Homo sapiens: one gene and its partners. The protein of the gene in region 2 purifies or fractionates together with the protein of the main gene of each other region. This does not show direct contact. Each region holds a gene or a part of one and is shown on either strand. Other genes may lie near its edges.

Region 1 (7,024 bases), on a different chromosome or scaffold from region 2:
GATACGAAAGCTTTTCCCTCTTTTGGTAAGAAGTAACCAAGTTCTGAAAGAAGCATATCATGCGGCTTTCCCAATTGCCAAGTTATGATGACACAAAGTCCAAAATGCGTGTAAAGGTTTTTGACCAAGTAGAAAAGCAGAGAACCCCAACCAGTATAATGTGTCAGAATGCTTTTTCTCTTCAATTGTAAAAGCACCACAACGTTCAACATCTGGAAACCAAGAAAATAATGAAAAGAACCTTTTTTCATGTGTATAATATTTTAAAACTTGGTTACATGTTATTTTTTGGTATTTCTAAAGTCAGAGACATTTTAGAAGTGAAATCCCTAGTAGGCTATTGTTTTACCAAGCACACTGAAGTTCCTCGAATACCGTTGAAGATGAGCTAGACATTTGTTCTGAGACGTGTCTGGACATCATGTGGTTGTGTTAGTCATCTTGTTGATACTTGTTGTTAATTTGGTAAGAATACATTGACTACATACTCTCCCTTACTACTTTTTATTAGCATTCATATTAATCTTATTTCAAATCAAGGTTACAGCTTCATGTCATTTGTAGAGTCAGATAATCCTAGAAAGGCTTGTAAGAAAGAAGTGCCAACATCCTTCCCCTAATCATGTTTCCTCCCCTGCAGAGTATCTACTTCAGCCTTAGTAGATTTCCTTGATCTTTGCCTCCAACTCTAAAGAGCATATTTGCTTGACGTCTGTATTTGTGTCTCCTACCCCTGTTTCATGTGATGTCTCTTCGCTTGACACTGAGAATAGGTAGGAAGTTCCTAGCTTTCTTTCACCCTCTGCCTTCTCAGTGCAAACGGATCCATGGCTGCCCAAAGTGATATATCCTTAATTTGGTTAGTTCAGTATTGATTGTTTATATTATGACTACATATTGCCATTTACAGCTGGACGAAGTGGTATAATAGGATTGTTTTCACTTTTCTGGATAACTTTTTGTTTTCCTGGGTTATTACAAGTCTTATTTGTTTTTGTTTGCTTGCTGCTTGCTCAGTTTTCTATATTTTGTCACTACAATTCAACCCCAAATTCTGAAGCAATTATCTAAATCTTTCAAGAAATTGTCCGTTTTCTTTTGAAGAAAATTAGTATTCCTATCATTTTATCTTGAATAAATCTCTCCCAGCGCCTCCAATCTGCTGCAGGCTTGTCTGTGCCTGAAATCTTCCTGTAACTCTCCTCACTCCCTCTTGTGTTGGAGCCTCACTTTTCTGGAACCTATGTCATTCTCTTGATTTGACTGTCTCACTTCGATGGAGCACATCCTTCACTAGTTGCCTGAGAAGTGCATGGCAGATGAAGTTTTCAGAATTTGTATGTACGAAAGTGCCTCGTTCTGCTCTTATCCTGAGTAGGAATTTGGACATCATTTTGCTCCGCGGTCTCTAAGTTTCCAGTGTTGTTGAAGTCTTAAGCCGTTCTGATTCTCTTTTATTGATACGTAACATTTTTAGAGCCTTTGTGTGTGACTATGTTTTCCTCCATGAAACCTGAAGGTTTTTGTTTCTTTTTTTTCTTCTTTCTTTCTTTTGTTTTTTTTTGAGACACAGCGTCTTGCTCTGTTGCTCAGGCTGTAGTGCGGTGGCGCTGTCATAGCTCACTGCAGCTGCAATCTCCTGGGCTTGAGTGATGCTCCTGCCTCGGCCTCCCAAGTACCTGGGACTACAGGCATGCACCGCCACACCTGGATAATTTTAAAAACTTTTTGTAGACATGAGCTCTCTATGTTGCCCAGGCTGATCTTGAACTCCTGGCCTCAAGTGATTCTCCTGCCTCAGACTCCCGAAGTGCTGGGAGTGAAGGCTTTGCATCTGGCCTCAGAGGCTTTTCTTTCTGTGAAATTCAGAACTCCCAGAACAGTGATGTCCCTTGGAGACTGTTTTCATCCATCGTCTTGCCTACTCTTTGGTCCTGTTTATTTGCAACTCATGTTCTTCAACGCTGGGCATTTTTTTGATTTATTGCTTTGATTTCTTCCTATTTGCTTTCTCTCTCTCTCTCTAGAATTCTACTCTTGGACTTTCTGGATTGGCACTCATAATTTTCTTAAGGTTTCTTTTTCCCCCCTCTAAAATTTTTGTTTTTGTTTTTATCTTTTAAATTGTAAATTGACAAATTATACTTGTACATATTTAGGGGGTACAAAGTGATGTTACGATTTATGGATACAATAAATAATAAAATCAAGTTAACATAATTCATCACTTCAAATACTTTAAGTTTTTTGTGGTGAAAGCATATGAGATTACTGTCAGCACTTTTGAAATCGACATTATTATTTACTATATTCACCGTGCTGTACAATATATCTCATAAAAGAAAACCACATTCCTCCTGTCTAATTGATGTTTTGTACCCTTTGGTTTTTCATTTTCTTTCTGGAAGTTATTCTCAAGTTTGTCTTCCAGCCCTTCTACCAAGGTTTTTCTCATTTCTAAGAGCTTTTTCTTGTTCCCTCTATTCCTATTTTATAACCTATTTTTTGTTTCATGAATGTGGTATCTCCTGTTAACTGTTGGAAGATATTGATGAGGTTTTATTTTTCCCTGTTTTCTTTTTCCTTAAGTCACTATTGAGGCTGCTCTGGTTTGTTGTGGGTTTTTGGCTTTTGTCAGCCTTTTCTGGGCTATGCAGTGATGTTCTTGTGCCTGCTCGTGAGTCAGAGGGCCTCTGAGCCTGTGTCTGTGGCTGACTGTGGCTTTCACTGCAGAGGCACCTGGCTGGGCCATTTCCTTACAGCACCCTTGTCAGCTTCTTTGGGTTTCTTCAGATTCCCCAGAGAAATATCTTGTAGCCCTTTGCCTGGCTGAGTGGCCAAGTGAGGAGAGAGGCCTGGGAGCACAGCAGTAACCATAAAAGAGCTTACTTCCCTCTTTTCAGAATTGTTTCCCTCCTCTGTAACTGGTGTCCCCAGTCCAAAGATTCTACTTCCCTTTGCAGACAGAAAAGCGATACCTTTTTGCCAGGATAGGAGAGGGACTGTGCAGGTTGGCTCTGTGTGGCTGTGCAGAGTTGTGGGGTGCATCTTAGGGATCTTCGTGCCTTTTAAACCTATCAGCCAACTCTGTTTTTAATTCAGGTCTCCTGGCTTCCAGTCATATTGCCAGTTGGCCTTCCCCATTGCCGATACAGGATTCAGCCCTTTTAGGTCTGTTTCCAGTTTCTAGCCTCCAGTATTTTAATGTTCTTATCTCTATTCTTATTCTTTGCTTTCGTGATTTGTATCTTAAAAAAAGAAAAAATCGTTTACTATCATTTTAGTGGTGCTTCACGAAGTAGTGTAAATGTATTGATCTGACAACGGCTCGTGCTGGAGACACTGTTCCAGGAAGTGGGACACAGTAAGGAAAATGCAAGTGTGTTCTCCTGCACTTTCACGGAGGTCACGTTTTGGTAAGCGGTGTCAGGCAGTCAGCAGACCAGCAGATATGCAGTATGTCCAATGTGGACAAGAAGAAAGGAGGAAAATAAAGTATCGAGGGGAGTGGAGTGGGGGACACAGTGGCAGTTTGGCATAGTGGGGAGGCCTTGCTGATTGAGCGACAGTTGATTCAAACTTGAGATGAGCAAACAAGCCATGGGCAGCGATCTGGGGAAGAGCGTTATAAGAGGAATGGACAGGAGGTGAAAAGCACGGGGGCAGGACTGTGTTGTGCACGTTAGAGGAATGTGGAACACCAGTTATTAGACCAGTGTGGAGCAGGACCAGAGGGTGTAGGAGACGGGCAGGTCAGGGAAGAAGCCGGGGCTCCTAGCAGTCGGATCTTGATGCCTTTGGAGAGCTGGAGCAGAGTGACCCAGTACTGGTGGTGGATCGTGGTGAAGTGACCATGGGCCACACCATTCACGACATTTCTTACTTTTCCTGTCACCTGTAGGAGGCAAGTATTGTTGTTATCACAGGTCGAGGTAGACCCTGAGGCAAAGGCTAGAGTTAGTGGTTTGGCTCCAGTTTGTGCCTTCAGCTACTTCACTGCTTCCCTAACCTGGCCTTGTCAGTCAGCCTCAGTCTACCATCTACCCAGGTCTGCATACCCCGCAAAACAGTATACACTTTGACGCTTTTCTGCAAGCACAATTACCTTTTGGGGGAGCCCTTCTCTTAAAGCAGAGTAGGTTAATGTTTGTGAATGAAACGGAACTTTGGCAGGCTGAGGTGTCTCAGGTCATCAGCTTACGTTGTCTACTGTGTGACTAATTGAGGCAAAAGATGTCCTTTTTAATAGTATTTTCTCATCACTTTTGCCTGGGTGCCCTTTAGGAATGTTATTTTTGGCATACAACTTGAGTTTCACTTAAATTTATAATTCTTTCTGTTCATTCCTACTGCTCTGTTGCCCAGATGTGGATTTTGCTTTGTCTCACAAGCGTTGCTGAAACACTGGTAGAAAGGTGGACGACGGATTGGTTGTGATTAGTTTGATCTTCACAGTACAGAAATTCAAAAGGTCAATAAGCTCAACAAGATTGCTGTCTCACTGATGATCAGAGTTGCCATTAAAATCGTATTTCCCGCACATCAGGCTGGAAAAAAGAATAAACATGATCATTTTAGTTGTCCTCAAAGGAGAAGAGGACAGGTATTCTGTAATCAGGTGTTGTGAGTGTAACTAGTTAAACTCTTTGGGAGGTGGGCAGTTTTACCTTGGCAATATCTATCAATGCATTGCCTGTCATCATATAATTCCATTTCCAATTCAATTTATCCTGTGGGGGTAGAGGCCCAAGTGAGCAGAGGATGTTCTTTCCAGCATTGTTTATAATCGCAAAAAAAAAAAAAAATTAGTTCAAGGGTCCTATCAGTAGGGGATTTATTAAGGTATGTTTACTCCACTCAACATGTAGTTGTTAACAAATGAGGTAAATTTGTATTTGGTACTCGGAAAGATGGCCATGGTGTCTTTTCAAATGAAAATAAGTGTAGCAGATGGTGAAAGAATGCATGTAAGATCCTATTTTTATTTAAATCATGTATTAAAATTATAATTAAAGTATAATTAAAATTACAGTTTTGAAGATACAGTTTAGAATATATTTTTTGGTAAAGCCTCATGGGGGGGTTGCCAGTTTTTACATTGTTTTGTTGAGTTATCTTTTAGAATATTTTTAAAGCTAAAAAATCAAGTTCCTTGGTAGACCATCACTACAGCAAGCCCACTGCAGTATTAATCTATTAATACTGTCAATGTTAATTAAACCATTATTCGTGTAGCCCCTACCCATCCCATTCCAGTCTCTCAGGAGGCTTAGCTGTATCCCAGAGACCCCAGTGCTATGACCGCAGGTCTCTCCTGGGGCAGGAAGAGGTAAGAAGTGGCTGATGTCAAAGTCAACAGTCAGCAAGTGGCGTGAGCAGTCTCGATGAATTCTTTCAAATAAGCGTTTTTCAGATCCACTCTAGGGCTTGCCTTTTCCCTCTGTTGTAGTCTCAGAAGTTCTTGAGGTAGACCTTGTGAGACCTGCAGCAGTACTTGCTGTCTTAGGTACAGAAGGCAGGATATTGATTATTTCTCCCTGACTCAACAAAGAGTTGAGATGTTTATCCAGGTTAGGATGACACTGCCCCCCTGTCCCCCCCGCCCCCCAAAAAAGAAACAAAAATGAAAGGATGGTGTCTTTGACTGTACTGGGAGTCAGGAGACCTCACTTCAATTTTGGGCTTTTCCTCGTTTTTTTTTTTTTTTTGAATAGGTTCAGAGCTACTCCCTGGACCTGTTCTTATCAGCCTTATGACTTGGGGACTTGGGATACTTTTTTTTTTTTTTTTAATTTATTGAGACAGAGTCTCTCCCTGTCACCCAGGCTGGAGTATGACAGCATGATCTCCGCTCACTGCAACTTCCGCCTCCCGGGTTCAAGCAATTCTCCTGCCTCAGCCTCCTGAGTAGCTGGGACTACAGGCATGCACAATAGTAGAGATAGGGTTTTGCCGTGTTGGCCAGGCTGGTCTCGAATTCCTGACCTCAAATGATCTGCCAGCCTCGGCCTCCCAATGAAGTGCTGTGATAATAGGCATGAGCCACTGCTCCCAGCCTGACTTGGGGTACTTTTTGACCTGTAGGATTTCAGCTCCTTTCTTTTAAAAATAAGAAAGCTGAGGCCAGGCGCAGTGGCTCACGCCTGTAGTCCCAGCACTTTGGGAGGCTGAGGCGGGCAGATCACCTGAGGTCAGGAGTTCGAGACTGGCCTGACCAACATGGAGAAGCCCCGTCTCTACTAAAAATACAAAACTAGCCGGGCGTGGTGGCTCATGCCTGTAATCCCAGCTGTGGGAGGCTGAGGCAGGAGAATTGCCTGAACCTGGGAGGCAGAGGTTGCAGTGAGCCGAGATCACGCCATTGCACTCCAGCCAGGGCAACAAGAACAAGACTCCATCTCAAAAAAAAAAAGCTGAATCTCTGAGTGGGTTTTTCATTTTTCATTTTTTTTTTTAAACAGATGCCTCAGAACCTGGGTAACTCAGTTTATCAGAAATTCAGTTTTCAAGTTTGGAAGGATAACACTTGGAGCTGGTAGTCACTCATAAAACATCTGATTTTGTGATCACGTTTAAGAATCCATGAATGATATAAAAATCCTCACCTATTAAAACTTTTTGGCCGGGCGCGGTGACTCACACCTGTCATCCCAGCACTTTGGGAGGCTGAGGTGGGTGGATCACGAGGTCAGGAGATCGAGACCATCCTGGCTAACACGGTGAGACCCCGTCTCTACTAAAAATACAAAAAATTAGTTGAGCATGGTGGCGGATGCCTGTAGTCCCAGCTACTCGGGAGGCTGAGGCAGGAGAATGGCGTGAACCCGGGAGGCGGAACTTTGCAGTGAGCCGAGATCACGCCACTGCACTCCAGCCTGGGCGACAGAGCGAGACTCCATCTCAAAAAAAAAAAAAAAAACAAATAAACAACTTTGTATTCATTGCTTCCTATATACTAGTCATCACGCTATTTATTTCTAGCAGTGGTTATCACCAGGGTGATTTTTGTTACCCAGGGCACATC
Region 2 (6,286 bases):
GTTGATTGATCGTTTTAATAAAACTGGAACATTTCCCTTGATGAACTAATAGAACACATCAATTATCTTGAATACAGATTCATATCTCATACTTGCAAGTGGTATCTGCTTTGCAATTTGTATCTAGTGTAGCCCCAGCCTCCCAGAGTCATTCTTCTTCCCTCAGAGACCCAGAGAAAACCTGGAACCATTAGCGACCGGCACGATTAGTGGATTGTCAGGGATATTCCAAAGGCAGCCAGGTGTGAGACACCTTGCCAGCTCTGTTTTTGGGAACACATTCCACATCCCTTTGTATGCCCTGAAGTGGTGAGAGGAAGCACGCACCAGCAAGGCCCACGGGCATCTGCCTATCCTTCTCAATCGGTTCATACGCTGAGCCATTCCATTGTGTATATACAGGGCAGAGGCAAGGGAGAGCGTCCTGGGGCTTTTATGTTTTCTGTCTTTGTGAATTTAGATCTCCTTAGAAATTGTCCAGATCCCCCCAAAGATCATTCGCTAATTAACGAAATGAAATATTAGTTCAGGGTCTTAAAGTTAATAAGGATCTTGAAAACTATATTTAATCCGATTCACTGTAGAGAAACACAATTATTAATGATACTGTGAGATGACATTTTAATAATTTTACCCAGATAGATATGGAGAATAATTAAGTTTACAGTTATCTCAAGTACCAAGGAACAAACCCTTTTAAACATTAGAATTAAATTTACCTGAACACACAATATTTACATTCTCATAATGTTGGCCAATAAAACCAGTAATGAAAATTTGAGAGTTTTCAACTAATTAGGCTTTTCATGAGAACATAACCAAAGTTTGTACATAATATAAAAAATTATGCTTAGAGGGAGAAGACATAGCTATTTTTAAACCAAAATTTTCAAACCAGTCTGATTTGTCTCAAGATTTGCCTTAATTGGAACTATCATAAAATATGCCCTTAGGTACCACATATCAGAGGAGTTTTTATTGGCCTTTTTTTTCTGACCACCAGTTGTCATTCAACAGAGCAGCCAGTTCTGCTAGAAGAAAGGACCCTCCCTCTGTTGTAAGAGGGAAGGAGAGGTGGGAGATTGGAAGATGCGTGGTGTAACGACGAAGGGAAGTGAGAGACGAGGCTGGCAGGTGCAGGAGCCGGGAGAAAAGGCATGAGGGAAGAGTTTGCAGAACGTGGTGGAGGCCCGAAGTCACCATCTCGGGGACAGAAGGGAAACACAGGCTCCGCGCAGGGCTAGGTGTTGTGTCCGTTGGTGATCGCGTGTATGAAGTGAGATGCATTTCTTGAACATGGGCCTTTCTCCAGGATTGCTCAGCCTCTTGTGGGCAGGCATGGAGTGGGCAGGTGATATGGGTCATCCAGGGTAGAGGTTTTGCCAGGTGGTGCAGGAGATGGGCAAAGGAATTGAAGGCATTTGCAAAATAAGTGATTATAAAGTGAGTCCATGTAATTCAGGTTGGCCAAAGGGCAAATTGCAGCTAGAAAGGGGCAGGTGGACTGAAGGGTTAGTGGTGATGGGTTAGGGATGAGGGCAAAGACCTGAATGGCCGGGTGGGCACTGGGTTAGTGGTGTAGGTTTGGGAGACCTCCAGGATCATCTAAGAACTGGGGTAGAGAGAAAATTGAGAGCCAAGAACAAGTCTTCAGTGAGTGGGGGTGTGTCTCCAGAATGTCCTCAGATGACACAGAGAAAAGGGGGAAAGGCTGGTGAAGCTGGATGACATTGGCCTCCAGCAGAAAGGTCAGTCTGGAGGCAGCGATGGGACACAGTCCCCACCCACTGCCCCTGCAGTCAGAGGACTTAAGCAAGAAATGGCCTTTCATCCAAAAGCCAGCAGAGGCAGGAGGGTCAGGTGATGAGGGGACTATTGCCAGCAGAGTAGATAGAGCAGGTTTTACTCAGGGTAGCCCAGTGGAACCAGTCCCCGCCCGGCGGTGGAGCGGCATCCCGGTGTCCTGACTTGGGCCAGTGGCGAGTGGGCAGTAGCAGGCGTTGGTAAAGCCAGTCTGCCCTCTGCTGAAGTGTTACTGCTGAGTCATTCAGTTCTTTCAGCTGATACCTGTTCAACACCTCCTGCGTGCCAGGCCCTGCCAGCCGTCGGGGTGGGAAGAGGCATCAGACGCAGCTGCCCCCTGCTGTAGGGCACTGGGTTTCCATGCGGAGCCCCTGAGAAAATACAGTACTCAGCAGCTGGGTGCAGTGGCTCAGAAGAAGGAGTTCTGGTGTAAAAAAAACAAAAAAAAACAGGCTGGGCACAGTGGCTCACGCCTATAATCCCAGCACTTTGGGAGGCCAAGGCAGGTGGATCACCTGAGGTCAGGAGTTCGAGACCAGCCTGGCCAACATGGCGAAACCCCGTCTCTACTAAAAATACAAACTTAGCTGGGCGTGGTGGCAGGTGCCTGTAATTCCAGCTACTCGGGAGGCTGAGGCAGGACACTTGAATCCGGGCTGTGAAGGTTGCAGTGAGCCAAGATTGCACCATTGCACTCGAGCCTGGGTGACAAGAGTGAAACTCTGTCTCAAAAAGAAAAAATAAAAATAAAAAAAACAGAAAATGAAAACCACTGGTCTAAGAGAATCTGCTAGAGTCTTGAGAGGAAGACTTCCTTCTTCCTGGCAAGCCCCAGTTTCCTTTTTCAGAACTAAACTCATGCTGCCTCTTGTTTTGCCCGTCCCTGCCCATTTCCAGAGTTCGGCGTGTACTGCAGCCACTGCCGGAGTGAGGTCCGTGGCACGCAGTGTGCCATCTGCAAAGGCTTCACGTTCCAGTGTGCCATCTGTCACGTGGCTGTGCGGGGATCGTCCAATTTCTGCCTGACCTGTGGGCACGGTGGCCACACCAGCCACATGATGGAGTGGTTTCGGACCCAGGAGGTGTGTCCCACCGGGTGTGGGTGCCACTGCCTGCTTGAAAGCACTTTCTGAACCTACAGAAGTTGGGTATTGTCTGAAATCCCAGAGGACCCATAAGTGCCGGTGACAAGCTGTCTGTCAGGGGAGAGGCTCCAGAACCTGGGTTCGTCCCCAGTGAGACCGGAGGATGATCCCCCAAGGACTGCGCAGCATCAGCTCTTGGTGGGCCTCTGCCTTCTCTTCTGTTTGGCCACCTGGTGTGGATGTCACTGTGTGAAGATAAGGACAGAAGTGCAGAGCTGCGCTTTGTGTGTTGTCTATGTCGGCTGAGCTACCAAGGTGGAAGTTTTCATGGAGAAAAGCACCTGGCTCCAGGGCCAGTGTTACAGTGTTACCCTGTAAGGTGTTAGCCTTAAACCACCGAGCAGCGTTCTCTTGATGCCAGTGCAGAGACCAGAGTCAGATGCCCGAGGACAGTGGGTAGGAATTTCATCAACAAATGGACCTATGGCATCATGGCTTTAGAAGCTGGTACATTTACTGAGCTGATGGACAGTGGCCTTCTAAAATATGACACTTAAATTGTAAATATGCACTGTACTTAAGGATTCTTAAGATGTATTTTTTTGTTATTTCTCCTCCAGCTGCTATCCCTTGGCTAATAAAATTCTAGTAATTTGAAAAAAAAAAAAAAGAGAGAAAGTTAAACAACATTATGGTGAATCATTTTTTACCCTAATTCTAATTGAAGGTAGCTATTTTGAATAGGACCAAAGTCAGTGCTCCGATTTTTAAAGGAAATGCTGATTTACTTTTGTCATCTGACAAGAGAAAATGGAATTTGACATTTAAGGTTCTTCCTAGCCCCAAGAGTCTTATTTCTTCTAGCAAAAGGAGGACAAGATTGCCGTGCAGCATGGATAGAAAAGTCTCCCTGGCCAGGCCCCATGGCTCATGCCTGTAATCCCACACTTTAGAAGGCAAAAGTGAGGGGATCACCTGAGCTCAGGAGTTCGAGACCAGCCTGGGCAACATAAGGAGATCCCATCTCTGCAAAAAATTTAAAAAATAGGCCGGGCACGGTGGCTCATGCCTGTAATCCCAGCACTTTGGGAGGCTGAGGTGGGAGGATTACCTGAGGTCAGGAGTTCGAGACTAGCCTGGCCAACATGGTGAAACCCCATCTCTACTAAAAATAGAAAAATTAGCCGGGCATGGTGGCGGGCGCCTGTAATCCCAGGTACTGGGGAGGCTGAGACAGGAGAATCGCTTGAACTTGGGAAGCAGAGGTTGCAGCGAGCTGAGATTATGCCATTGCACTCCAGCCTGGGTGACAAGAGTGAGACTCTGTCTCAAAAAAAGAAAAAAAAAATTAAAAAAATAGCCGGGTGTGGTGGCACATGCCTGTGGTCCCAGCTACTTGAGGGGCCGAGGTGGGAGGATCACTTGAGTCCAGGAGGTTGAGGCTGCAGTGAGCCTTGATTGCACCGCTGCACTCCAGCCTGGGCAACAGAGTGAGACCCTGTCAATAAACCAAAGTCTTCCTTGCCTCTGTTCAGATGGGCTGGGTTCCAGTGAGTGCCCTCACTCTTCCTTTAGGCTCCCTCGCAAACTGCCTGTGTTTGCCTGTGTTCTGAGTAGTTATAACATCTGTGTCCACCAATTCTTCAGAATGATTTTCTTTTTTAAAGTTAAATTTTTTTTTTTTTTTTTTAGAGAGAGAGACAGGGTCTCACTCTGTCACCCAGACTGGAGAGTGGTGATGCAATCATAGCTCACTGTAGCCTCTATCACCTGAGCTCAAGTGATCCTCCCACCTCAGCCTCCCGAGTAGCTGGGACTACAGGTGTGCACCACCATGCCTGGCTAATTTCAGAATGATTTTCAACTTCACATTTTGTATGTGCCAGTGAAAAGAAATCTTTTTTATTATTTCTACTGAAATATCTATTTCTGTTTCTTAGAATTTTACAGTTCCAAGTAGATTAGCTTAGGGACTAGGACATGTCTCATAATGGGAGAGCATTGCATATTCATGTGTTTCAAACTCCAGGTCAGGACCCATTAGTGGATTGTGACATTGATCTAGTGCGGAAAACCAGCATTTAAAAAAATGAAATGGTGTAAGAGAAAAATGATCACAATGTACCATACATAGCTAAGGAAAATGTTTTGTGTAACTTGTTTACGTGTGTGCAGCACATGTGTGCACAGGTGTATACCGGATCATAGCGTAAATTCATTTCTTACTGAAAGTTGTAGTCAAAACATTTTCACAACACTGTTTTGGATGAAGCTTATACCTCGTCCCCTGTGTTACTGGGCACAAAACTTCAGGATGTAAGAAAGAACTGAGATCCTGTGCAGTGGAACCAGAGGTTTAGTGCTGGGCTCTGGTCTGAGGTAAGGTGCCAGTGTCTCAGTAGCGTGAGCAGGGCGGGGGAGCCGCTGGGAGGATGACAGGAGAAGGCCCAGCCGGGAATTTGCATACACAAATTCTGTTGTAATGGTGATCACAGAATAGGTTGGCTGATTTACACAGAGAGAAAGGATCTGTTGTGTTCCTCAGTGAAATCACACCATTTGCAGAGAGCAATCTTTTCCTGTTCCCCACTGCTCAAGTTAGTGTAAAAACCTGTCCCTATCTGTCCCCATCAAGAATGAGATGTTTTTCTTGTTTTATTGTTGGAGGAACATTGACTTTCAAAATTGAAAAACCTTAATGGTGTGAAGAAATTTCGAGTTTAAAATATTACATAATGTCATCCTTCAATACGGAAATTCCTTTTGAATTTCCAAGTTACCAGAACAAAAGTCTAATATTTTAAAATATTCATGTTTGGAAACAGGTTGGTTGTCTGGTTGCGGGCCATGGCCGATATTCTCTCAGCCGCAGAATAGATGATTACAAGCACCTGAGTCTTTTGTTTGTTTATTTGTTTTTAAGAGCAATACAAGGCCAAGTGGGGTGGCTCACGCCTGTAATGCCAGCACTTTGGGAGGCCGAGGTGGGTGGATCACCTGAGGTCAGGAGTTCAAGACCAGCCTGGCCAACATGGCGAAACCCTGTCTTTACGAAAAATGCAAAAATTTTCCGGGTGTGGTGGCGGTTGCCTGTAATCCCAGCTACTCAGGAGGCTGAGGCAGGAGAATCGCTTGAACCCGGGAGGCGGAGGTTGCAGTGAGCCGAGATTGTGCCACTGCACTGCAGCCTGGGTGACAAAGCAAAACTCCGTCTCAAAAAAAAAAAATGAATAAAGGCAATACAAGCTATGTTTGAAAGTACCTTTGCAAGAAAACAGGCCCAGCAGTCGTATTTGTGCACCAGAAACAAAAGGTTGCTCAGGCAGGATACTGGAAAGGATGGGGGAAGGGGCGAGCCTCAGGGCAACCACCAGGTTGACTATTTGTCCCTGTCCCTA
Region 3 (7,286 bases), on a different chromosome or scaffold from region 2:
CCTCCTGGTATCTGCACTCTTATGAAGTTCCCGCACACACTGAATATGGCTGACCTGTGAAACCATGGGATGTTGCAAAATTGACAATATGGGACTTCTGTGGCTAGGTCATAAAAGACATTGGTGGTTTCTACCTTGCCCTTAGATCACTTGTTCTGCTGAAAACCAGCTGCTGTATCATGAGGACACTCAAACAGTACTATTGAGAGGTCCATGTGTTAAGGAACTGGGGCCTCCTGCCAAGAGCCTGCACAAACTTGCCAGCCGGGGCTTCTCCAGCCCTGGCCAAGCCTTCATATGATTTCAGGCTCATGAGAGACCCCAAGCCAGAACCACCCAGCTAGGACGCTCTCAAATTCCTAACTCACAGAAACTGTGAGATGATAAATGTTAATTGTTGTTTTGAGGAGAGAGGCCATTTCTCTTACTGTCTCTGAAGAGAAGGAAGAAGTAAAAGCTGAAAAACAACAGGAATGAAGTCAGTGGCAAGACCAACTGATGCCACTTACCAGGCCTGAGGTTAAAGATTAACGCCCCCACCCTAACCACATGTGTTACCTATAGATCACTTGCTCAATCTATCACAACCCTTTCACGTGGACCCCCTTAGAGTTATAAGCCCTTAAAAGGGCCAGGAACTTTTTCTTTGGAGAGCTTGGTTCTTGAGACACAACTCTGCCAACGCTCCTGGCCGAATAAAGTCTCTTCCTTCTTTAACCTGGTGTCTGACAGGTTTTATCTGCAGCTTGTCCTGCTACAGTTTTAAGCCATTAAGTTTGGGAATAATTTGTTACACAACAAAAGACAACTAATACAGACCTACTGGGAGGGGAGGAGCCACAGTATTTTGCAGTTCTTCCAATCAGGAGGTGAAGTCTACAGTCTAGCTCTCCACTCTAGAATTTGGATTTGGCTGATGGGTCATTATAGAAAGATTATAGATGTAAGGCTTAAAAAGTGCTTGTGCTGGCAGGGCGCAGTGGCTCATGCCTGTAATCCTAGCACTTTGGGAGGCCGAGGTGGGCAGATCACCTGAGGTCAGAAGTTTGAGACCAGCCTGCCCAACATGGTGAAACCCCATCTCTACTAAAAATACAAAAATTAGCCAGGCGTGGTGGCAGGCGCCTGTAATCCCAGCTACTCGGAAGGCTGAGGCAGGAGAATCGCTTGAACCCGGGAGGGGGAGGTTGCAGTGAGCGGAGATTGTGCCACTGCACTCCAGCTTAGGTGACAGAGCAAGACTCCATCTCAAAAAAAAAAAAAAAAAAAAAAGTGCTTGTGCAATTGAGTCTTGCCCTCTCTTGCTCCTGGGAACTCTGCAATTATCACCATGTAATTTAGCTAGGCTTGTCTGCTGGAGACACGTGGTCCCATCATCCCAGCTAACAGCCAGCATCAAGCAGACGAGAGTGAGACCATCCCAAACTTTCCAGCCCAAGCTGAACTGGCCCAGAAAAGCTAATCCACAGGATCATGCGAATTAATCAATGTTTGTTGTTTAAAGCTATCAAAGTTTTAGGGTAATCTGTTACACAGCATAAGCTAATTGATACAGCATATTTACTTTGTGTGCACCTCCCGCCTCAACCTCCCCACCCTAACCAGGAAACTACTGATGTGTTACAAGAACACTACAGGATGTGTTCAAAGCCTGGTTACCTCCTAACTTTACCTAGTCTCAGACAAGTTAGTTTGCCTCTTTCAGCCTCAGTTTTCCTCATCTTCAAATTGGAGATAACAGTAGGTAATAGCACCTAGCTCTCTTTTTTTTTTTTTTGAGATGGAGTCTCGCTCTGTCGCTCAGGCTGGAGTGCAGTGGCACAATCTCGGCTCACTGCAACCTCTGCCTCCTGGGTTCAAGCGATTCTCCTGCCTCAGCCTCCCGAGTAGCTGGGATTACAGGCACACGCTACGATGCCTGGCTAATTTTTCTATTTTTAGTAGAGACGGGGTTTCACCATGCTGGCCAGGCTGGTCTCAAACTCCTGACCTCAAGTGATCTACCCGCCTCGGCCTCCCAAAGTGTTACAGGTGTGAGCCACCACACCTGGCTGTACCTAGCTCTTAAAGTTCATGTGACAATTAATTGAGATGAACTACATAATGTGCTTAGCACACAGTGCTCAAATAAATCATTAATGAAGGCAACAGGAAAAAGCCAAAATGAGTAGATCTCCGGGGTAAGGCCTGAGTTGGTTCTTCAAAAGGACACTCTTACCAAAGAAAGGCTACCAAGTATATCAGTCAAGTAAACATTTACTGTTTGCCACATTCCAGGTCCCTTACCTGAAACTGTGACCTAAAAGCAGGAATAATTCACGGCACTGAGCTATTTTGAAACAGAACCAAGCTTGCTTATTGCACAAGTAACTAAAATAGGACATCAAAATATTTTTCTTGTTTTTATTTTTTTGAGACAGTCTTGCTCTGACACCCAGGTTGGAGTGCAGTGGTATGATTACAGCTCACTACAGCCTCACCCTCCCAGGCTCAGGAGATCCTTCCACTTCAGCCTCCCAAATAGCTGGGACCACAGGCATGAGCCACCATGCTGGGCTAATATTTTTAATTATTTTTGTAAAGATGGGGTCTCCCTATGTTGCCCAGGCTAGTCTCAAACTCCTGGGCTCAAGTGATCCTCCCACCTTGGCCTCCCAAAAGTGCTGAGATTACAGGCATGAGGCACTGCATGTGGCCCAGAAAATATTTCTGAATGGAACTTGAAAAAATGGATATTTTGGTCTATACTTCACCAGCCCCACTGAGCACTCCAGAGCCAGATGTGAAGGGAAGAGGGTAGCCAGGGTATCCCATAACTCTCTTTCTGTATCCTGTCTTTTCCCCACCAGGGAGTAGGAAAACATTCTATCCTGAAAACAAGATTATTTCACCTCTAAACAGTGACTTTTAATTATTTTGATCTCAACCCACAATATGAAAAACACATCATATTGTGTCTGAATACAAACTCAAAACTGAAACAAAAGTTTCATCAATTGAGACTTGAAATGTGTGATACATTCTGGGTTTTTTTTTTTTTGTATTCTATTTTTTTTTTAAATGTTGATCACAATTCTCTATAAACGGATTTTAAAACCTATTGACAGGCCACAACCAGCTGTTCGAAAAAAAGTACTTTGAAATATCACATGGGGGAGGAAACGCAGAGATCATCTAGTCCAATCCCTTCACTTCACAGGGGGTAAACTGAGTCTCAGAAGATCAAGTCACTTGCCCAAGGCCACGCAGCTAGTAAGTTGCTGTGGTTGGATTTGACCGTAATAACCATCGGCTACTGAATGCCCATCATGTGTCAGCCATTTGCTGAGTTTTTTCTTTTTTTTTCTTTTTGAGACAGAGTCTTGCTCTGTCGCCAGGCTGGAGTGCAGTGGCGCGATGTCGGCTCACTGCAACCTCTGCCTCCCGGGTTCAAGCGATTCTCCTGCTTCAGCCTCCCGAGTAGCTGGGACTACAGGCTCGCGCCACCACGCCTAGCTAATTTTTGTATTTTTAGTAGAGACGGGGTTTCATCATGTTGGCTAGGATGGTCTCGATCTTTTGACCTCGTGATCCGCCCGCCTCGGCCTCCCAAAGTGCTGGGATTACAGGCGTGAGCCACCGCGCCCGGCCTGCTGAGTTCTTTAATTGCATTATTTCATTTAATACTCACTGTGATCCTATGAAACAGATACTATTCTTTCCACCTTACAGACGGGGAAACGGAGTCTCAGAATAGGGGAAATGACTTAAGGTGTCACAATGGCCAGTAGCAGACCCAGGAGTAGTCTTTAGGTCTGGCCGTGCACAAAGCCCCATGCTCTCAAGCTGTAACCCCGCTATCAAGAAAGTGGTTATGCAAGTGGGCCTGTGAGCTCTCAACGTCTAAGCCGTGCGCATGTGAGACAGCGATAAGCTCGCGTTCTCCAGTCTCCAGGGCCTTATCATTCCTCACGCTTTCCTTCATCGGCTCGCAAAGAAACGTGGCGATCAAGGAAGACAGCGAAGGCTCCATCCTCGTCGGGGGAGGATAATTCGAATCTCAGCCTGTGAGTTTACTCAGCACACCTGTTTAATCTCTTGGTCCTTCAGTTTCCACACCTAGGAAGCTGGAACAGCAGCAGCATCCAGCGCCAGGACTGGAGTCATATACGAACTCTGGCACCTGGGAGGCGCGCGTCCTACGTCAGTTCCGCTCGACCCCACCCCCCCCGCCCCCCCGCCTTCTCCCCACGCGCATGCGCCGCGCAGCGGCGCTTTTTACGACGCGGCAGGCGCGGCGCGCTTAGTTGCCGGAGCTGAACGGCGCGGAGCTGGTCTGAGGCGAGCCGAGCCGAGCGAGCGCGGCGGTGGGGCCGAGAGGACGCGCAGGTGGCGGCGTTGCCATGTCGCACGGTCACAGCCACGGCGGGGGTGGCTGCCGCTGCGCCGCCGAACGGGAGGAGCCGCCCGAGCAGCGCGGCCTGGCCTACGGCCTGTACCTGCGCATCGACCTGGAGCGGCTGCAATGCCTTAACGAGAGCCGCGAGGGCAGCGGCCGCGGCGTCTTCAAGCCGTGGGAGGAGCGGACCGACCGCTCCAAGGTGGGCCGCCTGGGGCTTGGGGCGGGCGGGGCAGGGTGCGTGTGGGGCCTCGGGCCGTCGGTCTACTCATTTCTGATGTTAAGAATAACGACAGCCTGGTTGCCAAGCGCTTTTCCGTGCCTGTCTCCTGCCAGCTCTTTGGGAGGCGAGCAGCGTTGTCTCCCCATTTTGCATATAGGGAAACTGAGGCCTAGAGGGAACGGGGACAGTTTTGTCAAGCTACACAGCCTAACGCTCTATTCCAGGGCTGTGTGGGCTAGAGAGGATGGTCGTGAGGGCCGTTGGACCATTGGTGCTAATGGCTGCCTCATCATATTACCTGGTGAAGATGAGCCTAGGGAGATGAAAGGTGGTTCCCATATAGAGCAAATGTTCTTTACATTGTGGGGTCGCAGGCCCCTTTGCTATCTGTTTGAAAGCAGTGGACCTTCTTCTCAGAAAAATGCACATAAACACCTGCCTTTCAGTTCACACTTCAGAAGGCTCTTCGACCCTGGAAATTCATTCATGGGCTTTTTGTTAAGAACCTTCCAGTTGGGTGGCCTGTGGCTGTTATGACACTGGATAAGACTGGTTAGCTTCAAGTTAATAAGTCTTGGAAAACCAAGGGAGAGTGACTCTTCCCATTGCACCCCAGTTGTAGAGCAGGGTGGGAGATGCCTGAAATTGTAGGCTCTCAGCAAATATTTGTTGCTTTCTCCTCCCCCCTCCCCATCCCCTCCAGTTTGTTGAAAGTGATGCAGATGAAGAGCTTCTGTTTAATATTCCGTAAGTATCTCCTTGGTGCCTACCTCAGGCTAAATAGGCTGTACCCAGTTGCCTCAGATGGATTCATTCACTGGTGTCAAGAGCACACATTTGCTTCTAGAAATGGGATAAATTACTTTGGTGGGTTTGAGGAGGAAAGCATCATAGCTTTCTTGGTGCAGACTGGAAACAGATGTATTTGTAGAACAATAACTGAGAAATTGAGGTAGATTTCTTAGAATTGTAGAATGCTAGAGGTAGACAGGATCTTAGAAATTATCTAGTACAAGTTGACAGATGAGTAAACTGAAGCCCATACAGGGGAAGGGTCTTGCCCAGGGTCACACAACTAAACAGGTATTCAAACTCAGGTTTGACAACCTTCTCTTTTGCATTCTGGCAGATTTACGGGCAATGTCAAGCTCAAAGGCATCATTATAATGGGAGAGGATGATGACTCACACCCCTCTGAGATGAGACTGTAAGTGGCAAAGGCTTAGGCCCTCAAAGGAGCTCCTAATTCTCTTTTTCTGGTAACATTTTATTCCAGAATAGTATCATTTTCTTCTTACCGGGTTTAATATTTCCCCTTTTAAAATATCTTGGTCCTGTTCTCATTCTGCATTGGAATACATATATTTCTTCCTGAATTAATGACTTTTTTAGATTAAGCATCTTTAGGCCCAACAGCGTGTCTCATATTTCAAAGTGCTTACTATGACATGATTCATTCAGAGAGCATTGTGTAAATGTCACTTGTTGATGACTCTGCAGTTTTCTTAATAACTAGCTGCAGATCTCATATGATCTTTATGGATTCTAGGGGTTAGCTTCAACATTTTTCCTTGCTATTTCATACAGTAATGATCTTATGTGTTTTGTTGACATGGAATTGCTCCACCTGACTTTGCGTGGCATTTAGTTAGCAAAGTTGTGTATACCTCTTGCAACACTGAATCTTTTGCCACCAGAGCTAGTACCCTTTTTGACAACTTACCTTATTCCAGAACAGCCTTCCTAAAAGAAGGGGAAAACTGCTTTCTGAGTGCTGGAGAAACATATAAGAAGAACTTTACATTTAAAAAATTCAGTCCGGGTGCAGTAGCTTATCTCACAAAACCAATAAAAGATGATATATAGGCTGGGCACAGTGGCTTACACTTGTAATCCCAGCACTTTGGGAGGCTGAGGCGGGCGGATCACCTGAGGTTCGAGACCAGCCTGGCCAACCTGGTAAAACCCCGTCTCTACTAAAAAAACAAAAATTAGCTGGGCCTGGTGGTGCGTGCCTGTAATCCCAGCTACTAGGGAGGGTGAGGCAGGAGAATTGCTTGAACCTGGGAGGCGGAGGTTGCAGCGAGCCGAGATCTCGCCACTGCACTCCAGCCTGGATGACAGAATGAGACCCCATCTCAAAAGTAATAATAAAAACAAATAAATAAAAAATTCAAATCCTAAAGGCCGAGCATGGTGGTTCACACCTGTAATCCCAGCACTTTGGGATGCCGAGACTGGTTAGGAGTTCAAGACCAGCCTGACCAAGATGCTGAAACCCCGTCTCTACTAAAAATACAAAAATTAGCCGGGCATGGTGGCACACGCCTGTAATCCCAGCTACTTGGGAGGCTGAGGCAGGAGAATCGCTTGAACCCAGGTGGCAGAGGTTGCAGTGAGCCAGGATCGTGCCACTGCACTCCAGTCTGGGTGACAGAGCAAGACTCCATCTCAAAAGAAAAAAATAATTCAAATCCCAGCACTTTGGGAGGCCGAGGCGGGCGGATCACTTGAGGCCAGGAGTTCAAGATCATCCTGGTCAACATGGCGAAACCCTGTCTCTACTAAAAATACAAAAATTAGCTGGGTGCGGTGGCACAGGCCTGTAATCCTAGCTACTGGAGAAGCTGAAGCATGAGAATCACTTGAACCGCGGAGGTGCAGGTTGCAGTGAGCCAAGATTGC
Region 4 (7,981 bases), about 75 Mb from region 2:
GTGTCCACTGGTGGTTTCTGGCCTGAATTCCAAGCTCCAGGCACGTTCTGTGCCTGAGCAGCTGAGGCTGAGCTCAAAGGGTGTCTGGCCACTTACAAGCCACTGGACACTCAGCAGAATGCCGGATTGGGCATCTGCAAACTCTCCCATGAGAGTGGACCCTCGGTGACCCTGAACAGGCTAATTTGCCTTGTGAGTCCTAGTTTCACTGTTTTCACCTCTAGGATGGGGATTAGACTAGCCCCCACCTCAGTGTTGGGAGGGCGCTCAGGAACTTGCAGCATGAATTTTAAATTATTTCTATTACTACTGTGTGTGAGTGGTTCTCCCTGGTGGGGCAGCAACACTCAGCTGAGAAGGTGGAGGTGTCCAGGCAAGTCCCAGATAGCGTCTGTGAACCCCACCCGGCCCTCCTGCAGATGGCGGTGGCCCTTTGAGGCCCAGACCAAGTGGCAGGACCGATAAGGCCTCCTATCCTGCCAAGGGCAGGCCCAGGCTGGGAGGAAGGGTCAGGGGTTTCAGTTTCCAAAAATCTACTTACCGTCAAAAAAGCAGGTCATGAAACAGCTATTTAAAGGTAAAATGAGGAGACTTGGAGGTGTGGGGTCTTAGCAGAGAAGAGCCTGAGGATGTCCCCTGTAGCAAATGGAGGTTGGCCCTGGTGCTTCATTGTCCAGGAGACCCTGGGAGAACTTAGAGCTGGGACTCACTCAGGGACCATCTGCTCTGAACCCTGTTACTGGTGGGGAAACTGAGGTCCAAAGCAAGGCCCACTGACCCTCAGGCCAGCGTGTGACAATGATGTCTCATTTCTGTCACAGCCAATGAGGTGCAAACATGGACATGAGGGTGGCGCTGGGATCCAGAGTGCTGCTTCGAGGGCAGGGACGCACCCAGGACCTCTGTGGGCTGGGGTCATGGTGAGCTCCCTGCACTTTCACCAGTTCGAGCTCTCATTATGACTGACGATAGTCAGAAGAATGAACAATGAGTGCCAGGGTTACTGGCAGGAGGCCAACCCTGAGAGGGTAACCGGGGGAACAGTGGGATCCTTTGAGCCCAGAGATGTCCAGTCTGGAGCCCCAAGGTTCTGCCCATTGGGGCAGCAGCACGATTAGGTCAGAAGAGCGAGACCTGAGTCACAGTCCTGCTCCATTCGCATGGTCGCTGTGAGGGTCCCTGTGAGGAGGCCTCCATTACCACCACCGGCCACTGCCCTGGGTTCCCCCACCCCCATCTGTCCCATCTCACCCCTCCAGCCTCAAGCCCTGCTCCTGCAGTCTCATTTCCATCCCAGAGGCACTCCTGGGAAGTGCGGGAGAACTCACAAACCTTTTGATTATACATAAAATCAAAACATGGACAACGGGGATAAAGCCTTGCAAAATGTGTAGCAGAGGTTATGTATTCCTCAGAAAGAACACAGCCAGACCATCCAAGAACAGACCACCTGTAAAGAAAACAAGAAAAGCAATTCTCTGCAAATAATTAAGTGATGCAGCTCTCCCTCTCAATCAAAGAAATGCAACATAGAACAAGACACCATTTTCCTTTCTGGGAATTTCAGGAAAAAAAAAAATGTTATGCAGGCCGGGCACGGTGGCTCACGCCTGTAATCCCAGCACTTTGAGAGGCCGAGGCGGGTGGATCAAGAGGTCAGGAGATCGAGACCATCCTGGCTAACGCGGTGAAACCCCGTCTCTACTAAAAATACAAAAAAATTAGCCGGACGTGGTGGCGGGCGCCTGTAGTCTCAGCTACTGGGGAGGCTGAGGCAGGAGAATGGTGTGAACCTGGGAGGTGGAGCTTGCAGTGAGCTGAGATCGTGCCACTGCACTCCAGCCTGGGCGACAGAGCAAGACTCCATCTCAAAAAAAAAAAAAAAATTAGCCTGGTGTGGTGGCGGGCACCTGTAGTCCCAGCTACTTGGGAGGCTGAGGCAGGAGAATGATGTGAACCTGGTAGGTGGAGCTTGCAGTGAACTGAGATTGTGCCACTGCCCTCCAGCCTGGGTGATAGAGCGAGACTCTGTCTCAAAAAAAAAAAAAAAATGTTATGCAGCCCTGTGCAAGAAAACGCACCTGTTGGTACTGTTGAGCCATTTCAAATGCACGTACCCTTCACCCTGGTGAGGCCAATCCACAAATTTGTTCTGCAAAATACACATTAGTGTCAGTGTTGGTGCAAGAGGGTTACTTGCAACAGTGAAAATGCTCATCCCTCAGTCAAGTGGTTAGGTTCTGATGCATTTGATGTGCTTGGGAAAGTTCTGGAAGCAGCCAAAGAAGCTCATTACCTTTAGTTACCTCCTGGGGAAGCCTGGGATAGGGTAGGTGGGGTGATTTTTTAAAAAACAACTTCATTGAGATATAATTTACCATACCATACCAATTTGCATACCATAAAGCTTATCCACTTCAAGTGTACACTTCCATATCTTTTTTTTGTTTTTGAGATGGAGTCTCGCTCTGTCGCCCAGGCTGGAGTGCAATGGTGCGATCTTGGCTCACTGCAAGCTCCGCCTCCCGGGTTCACACCATTCTCCTGCCTCAGCCTCCTGAGTATCTGGGACTACAGGCGCCCGCACCATGTCCAGCTAATTTTTTGTATTTTTAGTAGACACGGGGTTTCACTGTCTTAGCCAGGATGGTCTCGATCTCCTGACCTCGCGATCCGCCTGCCTTGGCCTCCCAAAGCGCTGGGATTACAGGCATGAGCCACTGCGCCCGGCACTTCCATGTCTTTTAGTGTATTCGCGTTCTCAGAGCTGTCCAACCATTACCACAGTCAACGTTAGAACATTTTCATCACTCCCCTTCAAAAAACCCATGAATCGCTCCATATTTCCCCTGACCCCCTGGAAGCCCTAGGCAGCCACTAATCATTCTGTCTCTATGGATTTGCCTATTCTGGGCATCTTATATAAATGGAATCATATATTAGTGTGTCTTCAAGATGGATTCATGTGCCGTACTTCATTCCTTTTTATGGCTGAATAGTATTCCCTTAAACAAACTATACCATATTCACCCATTCATCAATTGATATACCCTAGGATTGCTTCCACTTTGGGCTATTATGAATAATATTACTAAGAACACACATGTTTTTGTGTGGACATATGCTTTCATTTCTCTTGGCTATATATCTAAAAGGGGGATTTGCCGAGTGTTGTGTTAACTCTAACCTTTCAGGAACTGCCAGCCTGTTTTCCATAGCGAGTGTAGCCTCTTACATTCCCACCAGCAGGAGAGAGATTCCCGTTTCTCCACACCCCTGCTGACGCTTGTCTTTTTGATTACAGCCATCGTAGGAGGTGTGATGTGGCATCTATTTGTAGTTTTGATTTGCATCTCCCTAATGCCTAATAATGTTGAGCATTTTTAATTTCTGTTTTGCCCAGGCTGGTCTGGAGTTCCTGGCCTCTCAGCGCTGGGGTCACAGGCGTAAGCCTCTACCAGTTGAGCTGAGCATCTTCTGGTGCTTATTGGCCATTTGCATAATGCACTGGAAAAATATTCATATCCTTTGTGCATTTTTCAATTGTCTTTTTATTGTTGAGTTGTAAGTTTCCTCCATTCTAGATACAATTCCCTTATCAGATATGTAACTTACAAATATTTTCTCCCGTTCTGTGGGTGGACTTTTAATTTTCTTGATGGTGTCCTTTAAAGCACCGAAGTTTTTGTTTTGTTTTGAGATGGAGTCTCGCTCTGTCGCCAGGCCAGAGTTCAGTGGCACGATCTCGGCTCACTGCAACCTCCGCCTCCCGGCTTCAAGCGATTCTCCTGCCTCAGCCTCCCGAGTAGCTGGGATTAGAAGCAGGCGCCGCCAAACCCAGCTAATTTTTGTATTTTTAGTAGAGAGACGGGGTTTTACCATGTTGGCCAGGATGGTCTAGATCTCCTGATCTCATGATCTGCCCACCTCGGCCTCCCAAAGTGCTGGGATTTCAGGCGTGAGCCACCGCGCCCGGCCGCAGTAAAGTTTTTAATCTGATGAAGTTTAATTTATTCTTCTGTAGTCGCTCCTGCCTTTAGTGTCACTGCCTCGCCCAAGGTCTCAAAGATCTCCTGTCGGCTTCCAAGTGTTTTTTTTTTTTTTTTTTTTTTTTGAGACGGAGTCTCGCTCTGTCGCCTAGGCTGTAGTGCAGTGGCGCAATCTCGGCTCACCGCAAGCTCCGCCTCCCGGGTTCAAGCGATTTTCCTGTCTCAGCCTCCCGAGTAGCTGGGATTACAGGCGCCCGCCACCACGCCCGGCTAATTTTTTTTTTTTTTTTTGTAGAGACGGGGTTTCACCATGTTGGCCAGGATGGTCTCGAACTCCTGACCTCGTGATTCACCCGCCTCGGCCTCCCAAAGTGCTGGGATTACAGGCGTGAGCCACCGCGCCCGGCCTTTTTTTTTTCTTTTTTCTTTCTTTCTTTCTTTTTTTTTTTTTTGATACGGGGTCTCGTCGCTCTGTCGCCCAGGGTGGAGTGCAATGGCGTGATCTTGGCTCAATGCAACCTCCGCCTCCCGGGTTCAAGCGATTCTCCTCTAGGATTACGGGCGCCTGCCACCACGCCCGGATAATTTCTTCTAATTTTTAGTAGAGATGGGGTTTCACTATGTTAGCTAGGATGGTCTCGATCTCCTGACCTCGTGATCCGCCCGCCTCGGCCTCCCAAAATGCTGGGATTACAGGCGTGAGCCACCGCGCCCCGCCCAAGTGTTATTTGTAAAACGAAGAAACCAACATCGAGAGGGACGCTGACTCGACCCCGCGCCTTTCCCATCCGCACCAGCAAGAGGGGCCCCTGTGCCCCAAACGCGAACCGTACGGCTCCAGACAGCACCGCGGAACTCGGTGGCTTCCAGAAGGCCCCGCGCCTGCGCATTCCGCTGCCTGCGCCTGCGCCTGCGCCTGCGCCGTTCTCCCGGCCGCCGCCTTAGCACCTCCTCCGGACGGTGTCGCCGAAGTCTCGCGAGCCCGGAGCGTGGCACGTGGGTTGGTAACTGTGGCGCTGCTCCGCGTCCACCACCACCCCTGTCCTCCTCAGGCCCCCTCCGCCTCCACCCCTGCCCTCCTCAGGCCCCCTCCGCCTCCACCCCTGCCCTACTCAGGCCCCCTCCGCCTCCACCCCTGCCCTCCTCAGGCCCCCTCCGCCTCCACCCCTGCCCTCCTCAGGCCCCCTCCGCCTCCACCCCTGCCCTCCTCAGGCCCCCTCCGCCTCCACCCCTGCCCTCCTCAGGCCCCCTGCGTCCCCGCCTCGTCCTCCTCAGGCCCCCTCCGCCTCCGGCTCCGTCCTCCTCAGGCCCCCTCCGCCTCCGGCTCCGTCCTCCTCTGGCCCCCTCCGCCCCCGGCCCCGGCCCCACGGCGGGATGCGGGACAACACCAGCCCCATCAGCGTGATTCTGGTGAGCTCGGGGAGCAGGGGCAATAAGCTGCTGTTCAGGTACCCCTTCCAGAGAAGCCAGGAGCACCCGGCGTCCCAGACAAGTAAGTGAGCGCTGGGCGGGGGCCTGGCGCTCGCGGGGGCCGCCTCATTCCGGGGTCGCCTCATTCCAGGGCCGCCTCGCGGAGCTTAGCTTTTGCTGGGCATTCGAGATCTGCTCGTTGTAGAGTATTTGAAAAGTAGAAAAAGGAAAAAAAAAATTAAAATCATGCATTGTTCACCACACCAAAGCAACTACTGCTGACATTTCATCAGTCTCCAGCCTTTAAAAAATAAAGTAAAATAAAATAAAATGAGTTTGGGATGTATTCATCATGAGAAAATACAAAATTACACGAACAAGGCCGGTGGCGGTAATCCCAGCACTTTGGGAGGCCGAGGCGGGTGGATCACCTGAGGTCAGGAGTTCGAGACCAGCCTGGCCAACATGGTTGAAACTCTGTCTCTACTGAAAAAATAAAAATAAAAAAAAACAAATTAGCCGAGCGTGGTGGTGCGTGCCCATAATCCTAGCTACTTGGGAGGCTGAGGCAGGAGAATTGCTTGAACCCGGGAGGCGGAGGTTTCAGTGAACCGAGATCGCGCCACTGGATTCCAGCCTGGGCAACAGAGCAAGACTCCGTCTCAAAAAAAAAAAAAAAAGTTACGTGAACATCTGAAGTTGTCTTTGCCACCCCCAGTTCTAGCAAGCACAGGGATCACCCCTGGCCGTGTTGGGAGTTGTCTGCCCTGTGCATAGATGCAGATCTATCCACAGGAAAAGGGAACGTCGCGTGAGGTTTTTCATCGCACGAATTGTTCTGTGGCGCCCTTTTCCCATAGTCGGCCTTGGAGCTCCGTCTGCCTTTGCAAGCAGGGATCAACCTCACCCTTGGCTGCAGGCTGCTGCCTTCCCCTGTGGACGGCATGTAGGTTACTTTTGATTTTTCATCATCATGAATGTTCAGTTTTTGTTTTTATTTTATTTATTTTTTGAGACGGAGTCTCACTCTGTCGCCCAGGCTGGAGTTGAGTGGCGTGATCTCGGCTCACTGCAGCCTCCACCTCCCGGGCTCAAGGGATTCTCCTGCCTCAGCCTCCCAAGTAGCTGGGGCTACAGGGCATGTGCACCACACCCTGCAATTTTTTTTTTTTTTTTTTTTTTTTTTAGTAGAGATGGGGTTTTGCCATGTTGGCCAGGCTGATCTCGAACTCCTGGCCTCAAATGATCTACCTGCCTCGGCCTCCCAAAGTACTGGGATTACAGGTGTGAGCCACCGCACCCGGACTGTTCAGTTTTTATTTTGTATTTTGTTTTAAAATTATTTTTAAACTTGTTGATATGGCAGAAAGTTTTAAAGATACAAAGGAGTTTAGATTATGAAAAGAAAGTTCTTTCCTACTATTGGCCCCCAGCCCTCAGTTTCCATCATAGGGGTAACTACTGTTCCCATTTTTCTGTGTCTTTCCAGGACCTTCTGTGTCAATACAGGCGTATGTATTTCTTTTTTCTTTTTTTTTTTTTTTGAGACGAGTCTTGCAGTCTTGCCAGGCTGGAGTGCAGTGGCGTGATCTCGGCTCACCGCAACCTCCGACCCCCTGTCAAGCAATTCTCCTGCCTCAGCCTCCCGAGTAGCTGGGACTACAGGCATGCGCCACCATGCCCAGCTAATTTTTTTTTTTATTTTTAGTAGAGATGGGGTTTCACCATGTTGGCCAGGCTGGTCTCCAACTCCTGACCTTGTGATCCGCCCGCCTTGGCCTCCCAAAGTGCTGGGATTACAGGCGTGAGCCACCGCGCCCAGCCTGCACTTGTGTTTTTTTTCTAAGCACAAGCAAAGTCACACCATACACACTGTTCTGCCCCTGTTTTCGTTTTCACTTCATGTCTGCATCTTTGATGTAGATCAGAACCTGTCGAGCACCCTTGTCCTTCTTACCGGCCACGGTGAATTCCATGAGATGAACATATTGTGATTTGTTTATCGTGTCCTTTTGGTTGATGGACGCAAAATTGTTTTCAATCTTTTGCTAATACGAAAAGTTCAAACGTTCTTTCCAGGTATTGTCATTTTGCAGAATTCTTGTAATATTAAATCCCCAAAGTAGCATGGTTGGGTCTAAGGGATAAAGAGCATATTTATTTTTAATAGGTTAGATTTTTCAATCTTTGTTAATCTGGTAGGTGAAAAATTATATCTGGTAGTAATTTTAATGTTTATTTGCCTTTTAATTGAGATAGAAAGCATATTTTCCTGTTTTTGGAGCCATTTGGATTTCCTTTTCAGTGAATGACTTATTTATAACCTTTGCCTAATGTTCTCTTGGGTTGTTTGATTTTTTTTCCTTATAGATTTGAAGGAGTTCTTTATATATTTAATGTAAAAATAGGTCTTGGGACAAAGCTATAGTCACCCTGTTTGCTTCTGTGTAGTTCTTGCCAGAGTTTTGATTTTTGTGGAGTTTTCAGTCTAATCTCTTGTGGTTTCTGAGTTTTGTTTTAAATGGAAAGGCGTTTTGCTCTCCAAAATTATTAACAACAACAATAAAAAACTCCCTTATTTT

The links.
Region 1: the proteins of WDR59 (region 2) and HDLBP purify together in Homo sapiens (affinity purification with mass spectrometry; 2 studies listed by BioGRID and IntAct, with this or other methods). This does not show direct contact.
Region 3: the proteins of WDR59 (region 2) and PITHD1 purify together in Homo sapiens (affinity purification with mass spectrometry; 2 studies listed by BioGRID and IntAct, with this or other methods). This does not show direct contact.
Region 4: the proteins of WDR59 (region 2) and NPRL3 purify together in Homo sapiens (affinity purification with western blotting; 3 studies listed by BioGRID and IntAct, with this or other methods). This does not show direct contact.

The regions. Positions count from the first base shown.
Region 1 is NC_000002.12:241,305,656-241,312,679, reverse strand, and holds part of HDLBP (vigilin), read left to right. Parts: intron 1-7,024. UniProt on the Homo sapiens protein: Appears to play a role in cell sterol metabolism. It may function to protect cells from over-accumulation of cholesterol.
Region 2 is NC_000016.10:74,870,859-74,877,144, reverse strand, and holds the end of WDR59 (GATOR2 complex protein WDR59), read left to right. Parts: intron 1-2,700; coding exon 2,701-2,936; 3' UTR 2,937-5,783; downstream 5,784-6,286. UniProt on the Homo sapiens protein: As a component of the GATOR2 complex, functions as an activator of the amino acid-sensing branch of the mTORC1 signaling pathway. The GATOR2 complex indirectly activates mTORC1 through the inhibition of the GATOR1 subcomplex.
Region 3 is NC_000001.11:23,774,134-23,781,419, forward strand, and holds the start of PITHD1 (PITH domain-containing protein 1), read left to right. Parts: upstream 1-4,284; 5' UTR 4,285-4,382; coding exon 4,383-4,580; intron 4,581-5,304; coding exon 5,305-5,348; intron 5,349-5,730; coding exon 5,731-5,808; intron 5,809-7,286. UniProt on the Homo sapiens protein: Promotes megakaryocyte differentiation by up-regulating RUNX1 expression.
Region 4 is NC_000016.10:135,650-143,630, reverse strand, and holds the start of NPRL3 (GATOR1 complex protein NPRL3), read left to right. Parts: upstream 1-4,957; 5' UTR 4,958-4,989; exon of another isoform or gene 4,990-5,296; 5' UTR 5,297-5,363; coding exon 5,364-5,481; intron 5,482-7,981. UniProt on the Homo sapiens protein: As a component of the GATOR1 complex functions as an inhibitor of the amino acid-sensing branch of the mTORC1 pathway.